2 separate regions of the Homo sapiens genome follow, and region 2 is linked to region 1. The links come from fine-mapping of genetic effects on gene expression. A gene starts in region 1. The other region holds a variant in brackets. All regions are shown on one strand. Distances are from middle to middle. Region 1 holds the start of SNX19 (sorting nexin 19). Region 2 overlaps SNX19 (sorting nexin 19).

Region 1 (9,386 bases):
GTGATTATTTATATTAGTTAAGGGAAGAAGAAGTAATCCAAACAGCAGATATAAATCATTTGTTTATCTGGAATAAATTAAAGGGTATTTGTTTTGTTTCACGCAGATTAATTTTCCTAATTGTTATTCTTAGAGCTAAACTGAATTTTTCCTAAGTACGTATCATCTGTATCACAGAAGTCACATGAAAATTGGAGATGTGATAAGGGGTCAAAGTCCACTGTCTTCCTAAGCTTAGAGGGCTGGTATGTGGAAAAGACGACTTATATCTCATGTTCCCCAAAGAGTGAATACCACGGATGGCATGGAATCTGCAACTCAGCATGGGGGCACACTTCTTGACAGGGTAGTTAAGACACAATGAAACGCTGTGGGAGAAGTATATATGTGCGCCTTCTCATTAGGAATGGGCTATTATTTTTCGGTTGAGGTATACTGTGGGCAAGAGGTGGAAAAAACTACCTCCTCGTTGGTGGGAGTTGTGGCTGGTGCTTTACAATTTTCTGGAGACAGGGTATTCATTATGAGCTGATGTGAGCAAAGCAGTCCCTCAGAACAGCACTGAGAAGGAAAGACCAAGTAAGAGCAACAGGTGGCATTCAGGGTGGGGCTCTCAAGCCTGGAGCATTTGGAACTATGAGGCTTTCTGTGGAATATGCTGCTCCTCGAGGGCCAATTTTCAACACCGTTATGGTTACTTCCATCACATAAACCGAAAACTATTTACTATCAGAAAGTATAATAATATTGATATACAATTTAAAATCAGTTATATGTCCATATAAAAATCTAAACCCAATTTCAAACTACTCATAATTGGCTATATTATTTCGTTCTCATTTTTTACTTTACTCTTTTCTAATGCTTAATTGAAGCAGTAGCAGATGTCAAAATCTAGCCAACAACAAAAAAGAACAAATAATGGGAGAAAGACTGGGAACTTAAACATTCTATCCATCAACTTAATTTTTCTGCTAATGAGGAGGGAAAAAACCTGCTGTTTTATGTCAGTATTGGAATAGTCATTAAAAAAAGATGAAATAACCAGAAGCCAACACTTAAATGTGAGAAAGGTGCATGGCATAGGGGCATCCAGAATTAGAACAAAAAGGCAGGAAAATGTTAACAAAGTTATACCAGTCCTTTGAGGCTAGTCTCAGTTATTTTATGACCAGACATCTGTACTTCTACAATTTGCCTATAATGAGTGTGTGTCTGTGTGTTCACCCATATGCATTTCTAATTACTTCCATTCCGTCTTACTTGAAAATGTCATAATGTTACTTTCTAAAATGCTATGTCATGATGCAGCTGTGTTGAGCAGATCAAGGAAGGTCTTTTCCCTCTTAGTTGGATTGGGAGTTCGGAGGAGTGTAGCAAGCAGGCTGTCCCTGGTGGTAGCTTGTGGACTCAAATGAGAGAAATTCAAGTGTGGAAGGCAAGTAAAATCCAATGGGTAGGATCTTGTCCAAGAATTTTCTTTCTCAACTTCTTCCCTGCTGATTTCTTTTTCAAAATACTGGTACATTTTGTACTTTGTTTTAGGAAGGTAGGTTATTTACCTATGTCTATCTCAGAAGATAGCAAGTTTTTGACTCTTGGAGGTGTGTAAGCAGACTTGGGAACAACTTGACAAGAGATAACATGAAGAGGGTTGGTTGGATTAGAGAGGCAATTCCCCAAGATGGCCTTAGGACAGGCTGACTCTATGTTATCTGGAGAGTTCTATTTGAAAATAAATAAAATACAGAATCCAGGGACCCCCTCCTTAGAAATTCTCATACAGAATCCAACAGAGTCTGTCAGAATCTGTATATCTGAAAGGCAGCTCAAGTGATTTTGAGGTGCAGCCAAGTTTGGGAACCACTGAAAATATAACCCTCAGCATTCTAGCAGCCCTGAGGTTCCAGGATTGCTTGTGTGAGTACAGGATAAACGCTACTCTGCCTTACATATTAGCTTCAGACCATTCACAGAGATAGATGCCTATTGAAAGAACCACTTCAAACTAACAGCATCTCTCCCCCAAGAACATTTGCTTCATGACTGCTTTCCAAACCCACTCCTAGCCCGGGTGAGCACCCACAGCTTTAATCCTGTTACCTTCACAGTATAGAGTGTGTATGGGTGGAATCCAGTGCCACTGTGCTCTCGGGCTGTAATGGTGCCAGTGATACGAAGGTTCTGGATGATAACTGGACCATCGGGACTGCTTAGGGGCTCAAAGCTGAAGGTGGCTGAGCTGAGAGGACCAGGTGGAGAGGAGGAAAGCAGAACTGGTGGCAGAGTAGGATCAAGGGAGCTCACATCATTGGTGAGATCCTTCTCTAAGCATGACGGCCGTGAGGGGCAGGTCTTTTCTGGCCCCTCCAGCAAAGCTGTAACAGAGGCGGTAACATCTCCTTGTTCTATCTCCTTGTCTGCTGTGTCAATATGGATCTCTGGGCAGGAATTCAGTGTGGAGACCGGCAGGCCTGTCTCTGTTTCTGTCCCTGGACCCTCCTCAGCCTCTGCTCCTTCAGATGCCTCACCATCTTTGGGTTCCAGAGCCTGGGAACTCTCTAGGGCACACAGGGCATCCTGAATCCTGTCAGAGAGAAAGCTGCCTGGAGTCATGAGCATGATGGTTTCTTTGCCCAGTTCAGACAGCGGAGACTCCAGCTCTGAGTCTTCACATAAGAACAGGGGACCTCGAACATTTGGCTGTAGGAAATGAGATGAGTTGTTTCCTACTTTTCTTTCTTCACACATCCCACCCAAATCTCCCTCTACAGCTTCGTGGCCTTCTTCAACCTCTGGAGAGGGGCCTGCAGAACCCTCTGGCTCACTGTAACTTAGGAATACTGGGGCTGCTACTGGAGAAGCTCTCCCTTCTGGAAGCTGCTCTACCTCAGCAATCAGTGGCAGAGATGTCGGCACTGAGGGCTGTTCGGGGGCACTGGCTGGGCAGGGTGCTGGATCTCTGGCCTTGGAAAAGATACCCACGAGTACAAGGTGGATCCAGTCAGGATCTGACAGCCTGCTGATCAGTGGTAAGATTACATTGCATGTGATGAGTTCGACCACTACATGGCGTCCGGTACGAGTCTCCAAGTGGGGCTTGGGCACCAGCCCTTGAAGCAACAAATTCACAACGCCACGCGTATAGGTGACTTCAGCACTGGGGCTGTGCACAGCAGGATGTGGGGCAGTCGCCCGGCAGTAAGCCTCCCAGAGGTGGGAAGGCTCAACTGGACCATTCTTCCCTGCAGTGGCCTCCTTTGCCTGAATGTAGCTCTGCAGGTGACAACCGCAGAGAGTCAGAACACTCTGGGCAACAGCATGACTGTCCATCACGCTCATCCTTCTCCGAAGCTCCTGGACCAACCCTTTCATGGCTGCCTCCATTTCTTCCTCAAAGGCTGGCTCCTGGCTCACGGAACGGTACCAAGATAACACAAAATCTCGAATAATCATCTGGATGGTGCGGTTGATCTCCCGTTCCAGCTGCCTTTCTGCCTCAGGGCATGGAGGACAGGTGGCCAACGGGATGAAGCGTTCCAGATGCAGTCGACCTGAAGCCACTCCAGCGAGGCTGGAGCCCAGCCATCCTCCCAGCACCACTAGCAATGCCGACAGAAGGCACAGCAGCCACACGTTGACCAGAAGGTGTATGACCAGGAGCCAGCCAAGCAAGACCCCCACAGCCATCAGCTTCCGGCTACTCAACAGGTTATTGAGGTGACAGCTCGATCCAGCTGGAGTTTCCTGGAACGGTGGCACTGTTTCTGTCTTCATGGCTGAACGGACAAGGTGGCTTCCCCAGATGACAGCCCTCAAGATTTTACTTCAGAGTTAGGGAAGGGGGGCATGAACTGTGTCTCAGATATGGGGCGATCTGGGTGCTGTTCAGGGAACCGGGGCTCCAGGCCCTCAAAGTCCTACAGGCACTGCAAAGCGACAGCTGCAGCTCCGCGTCTCCCCATGGCTACCACTAACAGAGCCCTCCAACTCGCCCCTTCCAGCTGAGGTGTGGCTTTGGAGGAAAACTCTGTGGCCTTCACACTGCCCCAGGCGGAAGGCCTCTTCGGGGCCTCGGGGCGGGCGCTGCAAGGCCCTGGGGCCCACGGACACTTACACACGCAGCGGGCAGCGGCCGGCGAAGACTGGGTCACACGCCGCCGGGAACCGCGCGCCCACACTCAGCCCCGACCTGAAGTGGACTCATCGCGGTCCTCTCCGGGAGCCTCGGCCCTCTGCCGCCGTAAACCTGGGCGACTGCGCTCCGCAGCCGGGCCTGTGTGAAGGCTGACCGCCGGCCGGCCGCCGGCGACAGCTTCCGGGTCGACGTCGACGGGAGCGAGGCATGCTGGGAGAGCGTCCGCGCGCGCCCCGAGGAGCGGCGCTGCCCGGCGCCCTCTGCTGGCGAGGAGCCGCCCTGACGGCCCTGCGCGAGGTAGTCTCTGAGCCTGAGCGTGAGCCTGAGCGCGCACGGGGCGCGTGCTCGCCAAGAGCTGGCGCAGATTTCCGAAGTGCCACGAAACAGCCGCCGCAGCAATCACCGCTAAGACCCAGACTTCCAGGCGCTTTAAAACGCGTCCTAGTTCTGGTTATTAAATGAAGCCTGTCCTTTACTGCTTAGGCACGCTGTCAATAATCCGGTTTATTTTAATTTCATGGAGGCGAAGTTTCATTGGCCTGATGTGTCTTAACATTTATCCGGTTTCCCCTAGAGCCGGTACCCCGCGTCCCCAGCACAAAGACCCTCATTTGTTGTCAGGAATTGCAGAATATAAGGCATGAAACGATACAGAGATAGATTTATGTTGTACATTTCATATACTGTATCACAAAATCAAATTTGTGATTGAGGGTTATTTGCTGGTGGCATTACACAAACAATCAAATATTTTGAGCATCTGCTGTCTTCAATGTGAGAGGCAGCGTGGACGAATAGAAGCAGACCTTGTCCTCCAGGACCTCCTGCTAACTGGGGATGCCAGCGCTTTGAACGCGATTGGCTATCTAGTAATGCCAGTCAGCGTGCGATATAGTAAAATACAAAATCTTATAGGAATTCAGGGGAAGGAGAGATCACTGTGGGTTGCAATGGTTAAGGAGAAGCTCACAGAAAAGGTGCCTTTCTGCTGAGTCTTCAAGGATGAGGGTTTCTATTTCCCTCTATCTCTTCTCGCCTTATCCTCCCCAAAAACATAGAAAAGGAAAGCAGAGATAGAGGTGTCCTTTCAGATAATCCTGTAATATATTTGCTTTGGAATATGCTCTATGTTGGATTGTTTTTGGTTTTAGCAAATTAGACTTCACTTGTCTACACAGGAACCTATAGGAAGACAAAATACCGGAAGCACTGACCAGGTGTCAAAAGTGTTAGTGTCAGTTTTGCGTGAAGCCAGCTTCCATGTCCACCTTGGGCCCTAGGAGCTGTGCCCGCAGGGTGGGTCTCCTTTCCATTTAGGCATAGGATTCGCATCGTTTGCACAGAGCTGCTCATGGTTGCCCTTCGTCCACCTTCTCTGTGCTGTGAGCAGTCTTTCATCATCATGGACTACTCCCTAGATGTTTAAAGGAATCTTCAAACAAATCCCAACCCAAAACTCTGCCAACAAGAAGTGCGTTGCAGCTTCCTGTCTCGTCCATTGCTGCTGTTGGGGCAGAGACTTCCTTTGAATACGAAAGAAGCCATCATTTAGATGTGACCCGTAGTTTACGATTCATCACTTCTAAAGCAAATGGTTTGATTTAGGATCAGTGTCCACTAAGCAGACTGGGCACTCCCGTGAGATGGCAGAATGTGAATCCACGGTTTCACGGTCCATACCTTTTCACTGCTGCCTGCCTTCCCGCAGAAAAGGAACCCGAGAAGTGGGCTCTGCCCCTCTACCTTCCCAGACCATTCTAATGTCCTCAGGAGCACTTAGAAAATGGCAACAATGCTCTGGAGAAAAGTCCCTGCCACCTAGTTGGGAGCTAAAACAGAAATGTGAATGATGAAGGGACTACCGACGGTGCTGAAGACTTCCTGTGGCAGTTCAAAGAGAAAGTTTACTTGGCAGCATAATCTGGAGTGTTCAGGGCAGTAAGGAAGTGACCTTGCAAGTGGGCGCTATGCCACCTGACCAGATGGTCTGGAGCATCAAGGTAGCCAAGAGTGCCTTCCTGATTCTGAAGCGGGTTTGATGGACATGCCCGTGCACTTGTCATTTGGACGGGTGTGAGCTCCTGCCTGGGGGTCTGGGCAGACCCTGGTCTCCAAACAGATTAATCACTGGGAGGAGGTGAGAGTCAGGACTGATGTGCCCTGGTGTGTGTATGTGGGGTGGGGAGACTTGGCCACACCACTCACCATCTGGAGACGTCCTTCCTTCTTTCCTTTTCCCTATTTCTCAAAACATTAAAGGCATAGTGCTAGAGTGTTGGAGAAAACAAGACAAATAAGATACAATAATTCTCCTCAAGGGACTCTCAGTCTAGTTAAAGGAGAGACACATAAATATATAAACGTAATGAAACATGATCACGTGTGTAATGTGATGTGTTCTGATGTGTTGTAATAGAAGTGCATACAATAAAATCGAAACACAAAGCGGGTGGTCAGCTGTGGAGGGGGGTGGCTCATAGACAGTTTTCCCTTAAGTTGGGAAATGAAAAAGAATTGAGTGTATTTTAGGAAATGTTGGGTAGCGAGAGCAAGGGGCAAACAGAAGGAAGGTCTTTCAGGCAGAGGCCTGCTCATAAGAAACAGGCAGAGACCATGAGAGCAGGGGGGCCCGTGACATAGGCCCTGCCAGAGCCAGCCCGCACCCCACTTGAATTTTCTCTCAAAATAGAAGACCAGGAGGCTTCCTAAAGAGAAGCTCAGTGATGGGGCAAGTGAGTGAGAAGAGGCGATGGTATGGAATTATTGCTGTGGGATATAGAAAGGGAGCTATCGAAGGTCAGGTAAAAAGATGAAGTGGGGGCTGGGCGCAGTGGCTCATGCCTGTAATCCTAGCACTTTGGGAAGCTGAGGCAGGCAGATCACGAGATCAGGAGTTCAAGACCAGTATGGCTAACATAGTGAAACCCCGTCTTTACTAAAAATACAAAAAAATTAGCCAGGTGTGATGGTGTGCTCCTGTAATCCCAGCTACTCGGAGGGCTGAGGCAGGAGAATCGCGTGAATCCAGGAGGTGGAGATTGCAGTGATCCGAGATTGTGCCATTGCACTCCAGTAGCCCGGGCAACAGTGCGAGACTCCGTCTAAAAAAAAAAAAAAAGAGAGAAGGTGGGGCTGAGGGACCTTTTTGTAGTGGCACCAATACATATGGTTGAGTTATTTTCTCTGGAGGTGTTTAGTATTGTATTAGTCCATTTTCATGCTGCTGATAAAGACACACCGGAGCCTGGGCAATTTACAAAAGAAAGAGGCTTAATTGGACTTGCAGTTCCACATGGCTGGAGAAGACTCACAATTATGGCAGAAGGCAAGGAGGAGCAAGTCACATCTTCCGTGAATGGCAGCAGGCAAAAAGAGAAATGAACTTGTGTGGGAGAACTCTTCTTTATAAAACCATCAGTCTCATGAGACTTCTTCACTATCATGAGAACAATGGGAAAGACTTGCCCCCATGATTGAATTATCCCCTACCGGGTTCCTCCCATGACACATTGGAATTGTGGGAGTTACAATTCACGATGAGATTTGGGTGGAGACACAGAACCAAACCATATCATTCCACCCCTGGCCCCTCCCAAATTTCATATCCTCACATTTCAAAACCAATCATTCCTTCCCAACAGTCCCTCAAAGTCTTAACTCATTTCAGCATTATCTCAGAATTCCACAGTCCAAAGTCTCATCCAAGACAAGGCAAGTCCCTTCTGCCCATGAGCTTCCAAAATCGAAAGCAAGTTAGTTACTTCCTAGATACTATGGGGGTACAGGTATTGGGTAAATACAGCCATTTCAAATGGGATAAATGGCCAAAACAAAGGGGCTGCAGGCCCCATGAAAGTCCGAAATCCAGTGGGGCAGTCAAATCTTAACACTCCAAAATTGATTCAAAAAGTGGGTTCCCATGGTCTTGGGCAGCTCCACTCCTGTGGCTTTGCAGGGTAGAGCCTCTCTCCCAGCTACTTTCACGAGCTGGCATTGAGTGTCTGGCTTTTCAAGGTGAATGGTGCAAGCTGTTGGTCAATCTATCATTCTGCAGTCTGGAGGACAGTGGCCCTCCTCTCACAGATCCACTAGGTGGTGCCCAAGTAGGGACTCTGTGTGGGGGCTTTCACCCCACATTTCCCTTCCTCACTGACCAGCAGAGGTTCTTCATGAGGGCCAAGCTGCTGAAGCAAACTTCTGCCCGGGCATCTAGGCATTTCCATACATCCTTTGAAATCTAGATGGAGTTTTCCAAACCATAGTTCTTGACTTTTGTGCACCCACAGGCTCAACATCATGTGGAAGCTGCCAAGCCTTGAGGCTTGCACCCTCTGAAGCCACAGCCTAAACTCTACGTTGGGCCCTTTCAGCCATGGCTGGAGCAGCTGGGATGCAGGGCACCAAGTCCCTAGACTACACACAGCACCAGGACCCTGGACCCGGCCTATGAAACTCTATTTTCCTTCTAGACCTCTAGGCCTGTGATGGGATGGGCTGCCGCAAAGAAAGATCTCTGACATGCCCTGGAGACATTTTCCACATTGTCTTGGGGATTAACATTCAGCTGCTCGTTTCTTATGCAAATTTCTGCAGCGGGCTTGAATTTCTCCTCAGAAAATGGGATTTTCTTTTCTATTGCATTGTCAGGCTGCACATCTTCCAAACTTTTATGCTATGCTTCCCTTATAAAACTGAATGCTTTTAACAGCACCCAAATCACTTCTTGAACGCTTTGCTACTTAGAAATTTTTTTCTGCCGGATATCCTAAATCATCTCTCTCAAGTTCAAAGTTCCAAAATCTCTAGAACGGGGACAAAATGTCACCAGTCTCTTTACTAAAACTTAACAAGAGTCACCTTTGCTCCAGTTCCCAATAAGTTCCTCATCTCCATCTGAGACCACCTCAGTCTGGATTTCATTGTCCATATCATTGTCAGCATTTTGGCCAAAGCCTTTCTACAAGTCTCTAGGGAGTTCCAAACTTTTCCACATTTCCCTGCCTTCTTCTGAGCCCTCCAAACTGTTCCAGCCTCTGCCAGTTACCCAGTCCCAAAGCTGCTTCCACATTTTCAGGTATCTTTTCTGCAGCCCCACTCTACTGGTAACAATTTACTGTATTAGTTCCTTTTCATGCTGCTAATAAAGACATGCCTGAGACTGGGCAATTTACAGAAGAAAGAGGTTTAATTGGACTTACAGTTCCGTGTGGCTGGGGAAGCCTCACAATCATGGTGGAAGGCAAGGAAG
Region 2 (9,386 bases), 23 kb before region 1:
CTTTAGCATTTAATAGTGTCATTCACAAATAAACAATCAAATATTTACTGAATGAATCGATCCTGTTGCAAAACTTTGAGTGATACCTTCAGGCGTGAATTTTAAGTTAATCTGTTCTTACAGCATGTAAAACAGTTTTTATCTCATTCTGTTACGCTCCTGTGAATTCCAGTACTCTCATCTATCTCTGCTTTCCTTTCTGTGTCAGCTGTTTTTCTCAATATCCAGTTTTAACTTTATCTGAATTTTTTTGTCAATGTCTTACTCTTCACTGGGTTGATGGTCTGCTGACAAACACATTCTTTCTACTATTTTTGAGTTGTATTCTGTCTGTGGTCAGAAGTTCACCATGTGAATAATCATACGTCATGGCACAGAAAATTTAAAAACCTTGCCTTGGTACCAGCTACAAGGTTAGCTATTCATTCTCTGTTTTCATTTTTCTTCTAAAGAAACTTACAGATAGAAAAAAAGTTGAAAATATAATCTGGGCCTTAAGTTTTCTACTAAAAAGAATCTCAAAATTATTAGAGATACAGTACAGGCTTCTCTGGGTGCATCATTGATTTTTATATAAATCAGAGTAGATACTAATCTATTACTTTAGTAAGCAACAGGATTTTAACCACAACCCCAATATGCTGTTCAGAAAGATATTACCCCATCTTTTTAGTTATGCTTCTCAATCTGCAAGGTGGAAAACTGTGTGAGTCATTCTTGATTTGTCTTTTTCTCAACCCTAATCCAACACCACATAATCATTTAAATAGTCACTAAATATAGGTGATCCTACCTCCTCAATATCTCATGAATCTATTACCCCTTTACCATCTCTATAGCAATGATCTCAGCTGAATGCCTCATCACCTTTTCTATCAATGAAACTCCTCCCTAATTTGTCTTCCTGTTTCTAACTTTGGCCCCTTCAATTAATTAATCCTCCACAGCACTATTTAAATGATTTTTCTCAATTGCAAATTTGCTCATGTCATCATCTGTTTATGTTTTGTAAAATTGTTTCCTATCAAATGAGTGACAAATGTTTTGTTCTTGGAATGACTCACAGGAGTCTGAATGAGCAGACTCCCTTTAAACTCTTCACTGTTATCATCAGCCATTATTCTTGCATATCATATATTCCTAATCAATCATACTAACTTCTTTGAGTACCACAAATACACTATATTGTTTTACTGCTCTGCCTTGAATGTTCTCTCTCTCTCTCACTGTCCGCTGGCAACGCCCCACATTCTTTAAATCTCATCTCTGATGTCATCTACTATAAGCCTTCCCTGCACCTCTCATAATTGATAAATCCCTTCTCTGAATCACATATAGAGTTCTTTTCAAAGCACTGATTTTATACTACAACTCCTATTTATAAGTTTGCACCTCCAATTGGATATCACACTTCCTATGGTAGGGATTTGGGTCTTTTTTTTTTTTTTGTATTTTGATCACTTAACGAAGTGCCTACCACAGAGAAAGCAATCAATAAATATTGGTTACTAAGTGAATTCATGCTGTATATGGGACAAACACTGGTCTTAAAGCATGGCACACAGTTCAAAATAGGTTCTGCAGAAAGCATACATCCCAATACTTACAACAGCAAAAACATTGAGCTCTTAATTATTCATGCTTACAGAGGAAGACAATTATAGATTTTAAAAAATCATGGACAATATAAAAATCCTTTATATTTGGCATTCCATATATGTTTATATACACGTCTGACAGATTTACTTTCCTAATAATCTTTTGTTTAGGCTAATAATAAAATGAAACTGTGGGCTAATACACCAGCGATAGAGCTGATGTTGTAACGGGTATGCTAGGTAATAAGTCAGGTGGTCTAGAACTAAGAATAATCCATGAAATGGGCATTCACACCTGGCTATGCATTCCTCTGGAAGGGAAGAGAGCTGGAAGGCAAGGGAGTGGGTCAGCCATGCTCCTTATCTCACACTATAAATCCTGGAGGAGAGAGACAGCTGCCAGTAGCTTATGTTTGGTCAATTTTCCTGGGAAATAGGCCCAGAGGATAGAAGAGATTGAAAGTCAAACAAAAAGCAAAGGGGGGTTATGAGGACTATGAGTCACACTTGTATTTTGGGAAGTGCCTCTGACGGATGGAGCAGCATTGAATTGATTCCAACCCATTATTTGAAACTAGTAAGAAGAAAAGAAGAGAGGAAGGTAGCAGAATGGGGGAGGAAAGACCAAAAGCAAAGGTCAGGTTACCTTTCTAACAAATGTAGAAAGAGAAAAAGACACTTGGGGTCTGTGTATTTTTAGGATAAATAAGACTGATTGTAAAGGGAAAGCTCTAACAATTTCTATATTTGAGTATTGTGACATGTTTAAGATTTCATTCTGAAAGTTTTTTCTTTTTTTTTTTTTTGAGACAGTCTCATTCTGTCGCCCAGGCTGGAGTGCAGTGGTGCAATCTCGGCTCACTGAAACCTCCACCTCCTGGGTTCAAGTGATTCTCTTGCCTCAGCCTCCCGAGTACCTGGGACTAAGGGCATGCGCCACGATGCCCGGCAAATTTTTTTTGTATTTTCAGTAAAGACGGGGTTTCACCATGTTGATCAGGCTGGTCTGAAACTCCTGACCTCAAATGATCCACCCACCTTGGCCTCCCAAAGTGCTGGGATTACAGGCATGAGCCACTGCGCCCGGCCAATCTGAAAGTTTTCTATGCACAAATCTAGTGTGCCTCTGAAGTCTTTCAAGTCAACCTTTTTTTGGCCCCATACTATGTTGCTACCGACATACTATAATCCAGTTCTGAGAAAATCAGGACTGACAGACTTTAAAAATGACACTGAAAAGCGACAGACAGGTTTGAACCTGGCTTAACCACATAAAAGTTGAACAAACTCTCTGAGCTCTGGCTTCCTTCATTATAAAATGGGCAAATTCTTGCCTTGCCTTTTTCACAAAGTTATCATCAAGATGAAATAAGAAAAATAAAAAGTATTTCTAAAAGTGCTTGTGTGTTTGCACATGTAAAAGAGAAAAAGACTACTTCAGACCTTCTGTAAAAATTCAACCAGGTTCAGCGAACTAATGATGGCAGGATCTGGAGTAAGCTTTGCATTTCATGCCTCAGTTTTCTCACTTGTAAAGCTTACTCTTCCTGGCAGGCTCAGGGAAGTAAATACTGAAACCAGTAAAGCATTTGGTACTGAGCAGTTAAGAAAATTGGGACGAGGCCTCAGGGGGTTTTGGATAATATGAAAACTCTATTTCCGAATCCTTCCTAAAACCAGACCTCCATGTACCAACCAATAAAACTTTCACTGCAGAGACTATAGGATCCAAATGTCTCTGTCTCTTCTTTCCTTGTCCCCGTGTGAACAGCAAGCCTGGCTCATTCTCAGTCCCCAGGTAGTTATCCTGAGCCTGCCTTTCTCAGCAGCAAGGGCAAGGGCAGAGAGGTGGGGTGGGGAAGGGGGAAGGTAATTAAAATGGCCACCCATTCAGAAGAAAATTGAGTCCGTGGAGGGGAAAGGGCAGGGAGAGGGAGCAAAACCCTTAGTGCTGAAGCACCAGGAAGAAAGGCAAGACACAAAAGAGGGAAGAAGGCAGTAATTTAGTGGTTGTCTTGACGACCAGAGTCCCTATTGTTCATGGGGGCTTTACCTCACAGGGAGATCTCCCTGTTCTGCTCTGCACATAGAACTCCCACCACAGGAAAGGAGGATGGGAAGGGAAGGGTTGCAGGAGGCAGAAGTGATAAGTAATTATGTGCTCGCAGAAGGGGCTGACCTCCAAATTTCTGCAAATATTACGGATAACAGATTTAGAGTGTGCTCAGCCATGATTTGGAAGAAAATTATTAGGGATTTATTTAAATCAGCAGACATGGGAGGACTTCAAATTATGCTGTGAAAATGGCTACAGGAGGCTGGAAAAGACCAGCCTTGAGGAGAATAAAGAATACATATATGAGAAGCAGATGCCCAAGATAAACAAAGAGAAAAAACACTGAGAGGGGTGTAGAGGAGAAGGAAAAGTGACTATCATTAACACCATCACCTTGGTGTAGAAGAGCTACCCAAAAGTATTTCCAGTTCCCTGTCTACAGGCTGAAATGTAAAACCTTTCCAAGTAGAAGGCCATCTATCCCGTTATGAAGGACGTAGGGACACCGAAGTGGCAACTCCAGAATCTCCACAGAATAGGAACTTTGGGAGCACTGACTATGGGTAGAAAACACAGAGGAGTAATAAATAAAACTGGAAAAACAACAAAAAGGAAACCTGGGGGAGAGAGGAGGCAGGTGTTGAGGAACTTACCTTGATGCTGCATTTGCACACCAGCCTCCCTCCCAGGAAGGCTGAATCCTCTCCGAGAAATCTTTCGGGGCCAGCATTATATTAGAGCTAAAGTATATTTCCCACCAATTTACCCAACTCCCTCCCTGCTCCAGTACCAAATAGCTCTACTTCTCCAAAGGGCACTTGGAGAAGCCTGCAAGGACAGAGGTAAAGATCAAAAGTAAGCAATAACATATGGTTGCTTCTCCAAAACCAAGTTAATGGGGGAGAGCCAAACGGTCTCCATCCATGGCCGAAAGCAATAGGGAATGTCCTTGATTATGTAACAGGTTGATAAGATTCCTAACATCGGGGCTATTCAGCACTGACAATCTCCATCTTAGTGAATACATAATGTATAAGATTTTAGGATCACAGGAGACCCTGAATATAGGTCCAAGTAGTTTATACAGAATATTAACAAAATTCTTGCAATTCAGATGTCTAGCTGGTCTCATCACCACAGACTCTGTTCTGCTCACTCTGTTCTGAATGAATCAGCTCCAGCACTGAATTTTTAACGGGTGGGATCCACTCAAAGGGGCAACTTCTGGTCATCCACACCACTCAGAGAAGCAAGCATATGCTGAAGACGCATTAGAGCAGAAGGAAGAAGGGTGAAAGATCAAAGAAACAGGGCTTATCTAAAAGTCACTGGCACTAAGGAGTAGGCAGATAAGTGGCCTCTAAACCGTAGAGCAAGCCAGGGAATGGCTTCAATATACTGTATCAACATCA[C/G]GGCAGGGGACCTATAACTGCAAAACAAACAGGTCTTCCTCAAAGGACAGTGAATGGTATTGTTTAACCTGCAGCGCCACCTGGTGCCCATAGAGAGAATTCCTGTGCCCACGCCATGCAGCAGCAGTTTGGTAGGCTTTTTGTCACCTATTTGAAACAATAAAAGCAACACACATTCAGAAAGAAGCTGGCTAAAAATATTCCAGGTTGCTTTTTATTTGAAAGTAGAATGCCCCTCCTCCTGTTTTAAAAATGTCTTAGTGTCTAGAATATTATTTAGCCTAAACCAGTCTAAATGACACCTATCTCACAAGATCTAGCTGTTATACCTTCCTCTATAAAGCCTCTCTAACATTTACCTCTAAATTATCTCTTATCCCCCCAAAGAACTTCATGCACTAGGCTATGATTTCTATTTCGACAGTAACAGACAAAGGAAGTTAAGTGGTTTGTTCTAAGTCACATAGCCTCAAAGCAAGATCTGATTTCAGATCTGACTTCAAAGTCCAAGTTCTTGCTTTCCATGTGGAAGGAAAGAGGTGGAGAAAGTACAACAGCAGGAGATGCTTCCAGAGAGGGCAGGCTCGGTGGGGCTTCATACTGGGAGGCCCAGGTTGTGGAGGGGCGCTGCACTCTTTGGAAAGGAGAGAGCCATTAGAATGGGAGATGGCCTGAAGGGCCCCCAAACCTCTTTGCTTAGGCCGTACCATGGCTCTGGGAATCAGAATTCCCCAATTAACTGAAGATCTGGGTATGCCCTGTGTGGAGGGAATGAAAGACTCAGTTTCCATTTTGCTTCTGGTCCCCCAGCACTGTTGAGGAAACCCTAAGATTCTTAATAGTGATAAGCAGAGGGACTGCCTCCAGTAGAATGACGTGTGATCTTCTGTGTTCATTTATTTGACACAAATTTACTAGGTGCCTTCTATGCATGGGGCTGGGTGTTGAAGATATAATGGTAAATAAGACGCAGTCCCTGCCCTCAGGATGCTGACATACATTCTAAAGCTGTCATCAAAATGTCAAAATCTTAGGTTCCTGTTTGCAGTCACAGATGGGCAAGAGATGCCAAGAACCTGACTTGGAAAAAAAGGCTCTGAGGTTTAAATACCTCATGATATTCTGTTTTTTGTTAACTTTTACAATGAGCAATTTTGTACCTCTATTTGAGTATATGAGACTTCAAGAGCACACACACACAGAAATGCAAATGCAATGCTCAGGCACACGGCTGTCAGCTGCCATCCACCTGCTACAATCTCAAAGATATATTCCAGTAGAGACTGTCACTATGTGACAGGAAAGCCATGATGTCTTCATCCTAAGATGGGTGTAGAATAAGTGATACCCAAGAAATATGACAGGCAGACCACTCATATGACAGGGGAAACTGCTAGGGCCCATCCTGGCCCAGTCTATAGAAGTCAAGAGCTTCCCTTTGGCATGGCCTAATGGAAGAGGCCTGGGACAAGCAGTACTCCTTCCCAGGGAGCCACAGTACAATCTGAGCAAAGCCATCAATGAGAAAAATTAATTTCAGCACCTCTAAAAACAGCCCAAGCCAATGACTGGAGAGCCAGAAAATAAGCGAGAATTCTGAAGACTGAGCTTGAGTTAATTTTGTATGTGGGGGTCTTGCAAAAGTATGCGTATTTCTAGAAAAGCTGTGCATAGGAAGAGATGGGGTATAAGACATAGCCAGGCATCAGAGCTGAACTGGAAGAAAAAGTTACACAGCAAAGGAAAAAACTGTAATCTATGCTTCCTGAGAAACTCTGAGTCTTAACGTTGATAATCTTTTCCTGATTGTGAATAGCATATAAATAGAGATAGCTAAGAGACAATCTCTGGCTCAGAAGTGCTTTAAAAATAAAATCAGAATATGCAGACAAAAATAATTTATATGCTACCATCAGATGCGTGTGTCCCTGAGACCAGCTGGATGGAAAGCAAGAGAGGCTAGATGGGAATACGGCAAGGGAACTTTCAGGTGAACCCAGTTCTAGTGGCCACTGCTTTGTGGGAAAGCTTGCATGGAGGGGAAGCATGGCAGAGCAGTGGGAAACACATGAGCTCTGAGGCCAGGATGACTTAAGTGGAATCTTAAGGTGTGGTTGTTACGACTTTTATGATTTTGGGAACGTTATTTTATCTGAATGTAATTTTCTTCACTTATGAAATGTAGAACTACATGTCTATCTCATAGAATTGAACATTAATATAAACAGTACATAGCTGCTTTCCTGGTATTAATATTGTAATAAGCGTCAGTTCCTTTCCCATTGCAATTACTCGTGCACTTTTGGTGGCAGACCTGGAGGTTCTCTTAAGAAATAACCAATGTCACAAAGAACTGTTATCCACCTGCTAGTTAGACATGCCCACCAAGAAAGAGGCCCTTGAAGTAGAGTTCCACAGAAAGCGCCTTGATTCTGGAGCGTTCTAAGAGAACAGTGGAAGCAAGAGGGTTCATGGTCAACCTTTCCCAACTGTCCTTAGGGGAGGTGGACGTTGCGCCTTGCAGCACAGCACTCTCCAGTGCTCCCAGACTCTGCCGCAGCTCTCCTGACCTTTCCTAGGAGATGGTTTAGAGAGAGACATCTTCTCTAAGAAAGTGATTCCAAGGTCTGGTGTAAGGTCTAGAGCTTGCCATCAAGTTTCTCCTGGGTGCCCTGCTTGTTGGACTCCTTAAACCTGCACACCCTTTCTTTTCTTCTTCCTCTCTGGATACTTCCTAACTTTACACACTTCACGCTCCCCTCTGCCAGAACCTTTCCCCCTGGCTTTCTGCCAAGCCATTCCATTCCCACATGCCCCCAACACTCACACACACACACTCTGTCTCTATCTTACACACACACACACAGACACACACACACACACTCCCTTTTTAACTGAGAAATCCTGACGCAGATGCCAGGAATGTGTCTGCTGCCCTTTTGACACAGGTCTGATGCCATCGTTGGGGCCATGGGGAGGGCAGCGCCGCGGACGTGGCATTCACGCATTCTGCTGCTGGCATGGTTCCTATTTTTATCGTGGCATTGCTCTGGGTGTCCAGGCAGGGCGCCGGTCCAGCTTCTCATTCCTTCACTTTCCATCAGGACTCCACACCAATCCTACCCCTTACCTTGGCTGGATCTTCCTGCCCCAAACCCCCTACCATCAATGCAGCACAGTGTATCTCTCCTCTTTCCCTCCAACCCAGTCTAACTCTGAGTACTTGCCCAGTTTGCTAAATCTGATTCTGATGTTTGCAGAGATATTTTCAAGTTTCTTCTGTTTTCGGGCATGAGCAGAGTTTGCACAAGCCGGATTTGCTCCTTGGCTCAGAGTGCTACCCGCTCTCCCCTTCCCCTCCCTTTGTCTCTCATTCCAAATAAGGAGTGCTTCTTGTTACATAATTGGATGTTCCCAGCACAGAAGCTGACACATGAGGTTAGGCGCACATGCATGCAAGACTTCCCTTTGACTTAACAATGCCTTTTTTGGGCATCTAACTTCTCTTCAGCTCCCCTCCCACTTCTCTCCACATCATCAACAATCAACGGAGATTTATAAGCCTGGCTCAGATCAGAGCTCTTCCAACTTTGGCTTAGAAGGAGGGGTTATGAGGTCGAACTTACTCTGTTTTTTTTTTTTCCTTTGCAGGATAGAGAGTGTGCTTATAATTTGACAGAAGTCTATGGCGTCCAAGGCAGTAATGTACACAGGTCTTTTAAAGTTGCAAGATGGGTATACAAAGTTGGAAGCAGAGGAATAAACTTGCCTGCTTGGGGATAATAATACTGGAGGTTGGAACATGAGGACATTTTAAGGAGGAGATGCACTCAAATCTGGTGACTACAGCATCCCTGATGGTCAAACTGCAGTGAGTTCTAAATAACTAGAGAAGTGGCAGTACCACGTGTGGCACCAACACCAACTATCCTGCTCTTTTAAGCACGGAACTTAAAGGAAGAGAACCCAAGTACCCTGCAAAAGCATATGGCTCAGCTACCCGTGGTTTCAGGGAGGACAAACATGTAGCCTCCTAGGCAGCAGTCATGGGGATGGGAGGCAACGGGACCTCATATCATGCCTCTTGTGGGAGATGCAGGGGGTACAGTGGAGAGGTGCTGCAGCTCTGGAGATGTCAAGTTTCCAGCATATTGGCTTACCAAAGCAAATAAAGCTGAAGCATGCAGCAATGCATACACCACTTTTTAAAATTAAAACCTGCAACTGTCCCAGGGATAGTAACATGGGCTGTCTTTAGACTGCAGCACTGCCCTTAGGTTAGCTGCAAGTGTGTAGATACGGAGATGCAGTTTGGATTCT

The links. PIP is the estimated chance that this variant, and not a neighbour inherited with it, causes the effect.
Region 2: its variant is fine-mapped to the expression of SNX19 in whole blood (TOPMed, PIP above 0.99). The same link has a PIP of 0.9 or more in cerebellum.

The regions. Positions count from the first base shown.
Region 1 is chr11:130,912,163-130,921,548 of GRCh38, forward strand. It overlaps SNX19 (sorting nexin 19), which reads right to left and starts at 4,317. Exons shown (of 11, transcript NM_014758.3): 1 at 2,104-4,317. The coding sequence starts at 3,777. RefSeq lists an enhancer at 4,060-4,109 and a silencer at 4,230-4,509.
Region 2 is chr11:130,889,457-130,898,842 of GRCh38, forward strand. All of the region lies in intron 8 of SNX19 (sorting nexin 19), which reads right to left. Among named protein-coding and RNA genes, the nearest start is that of SNX19, 22 kb to the right of the region's middle. The variant C/G (reference allele first, on the strand shown) is at 5,067.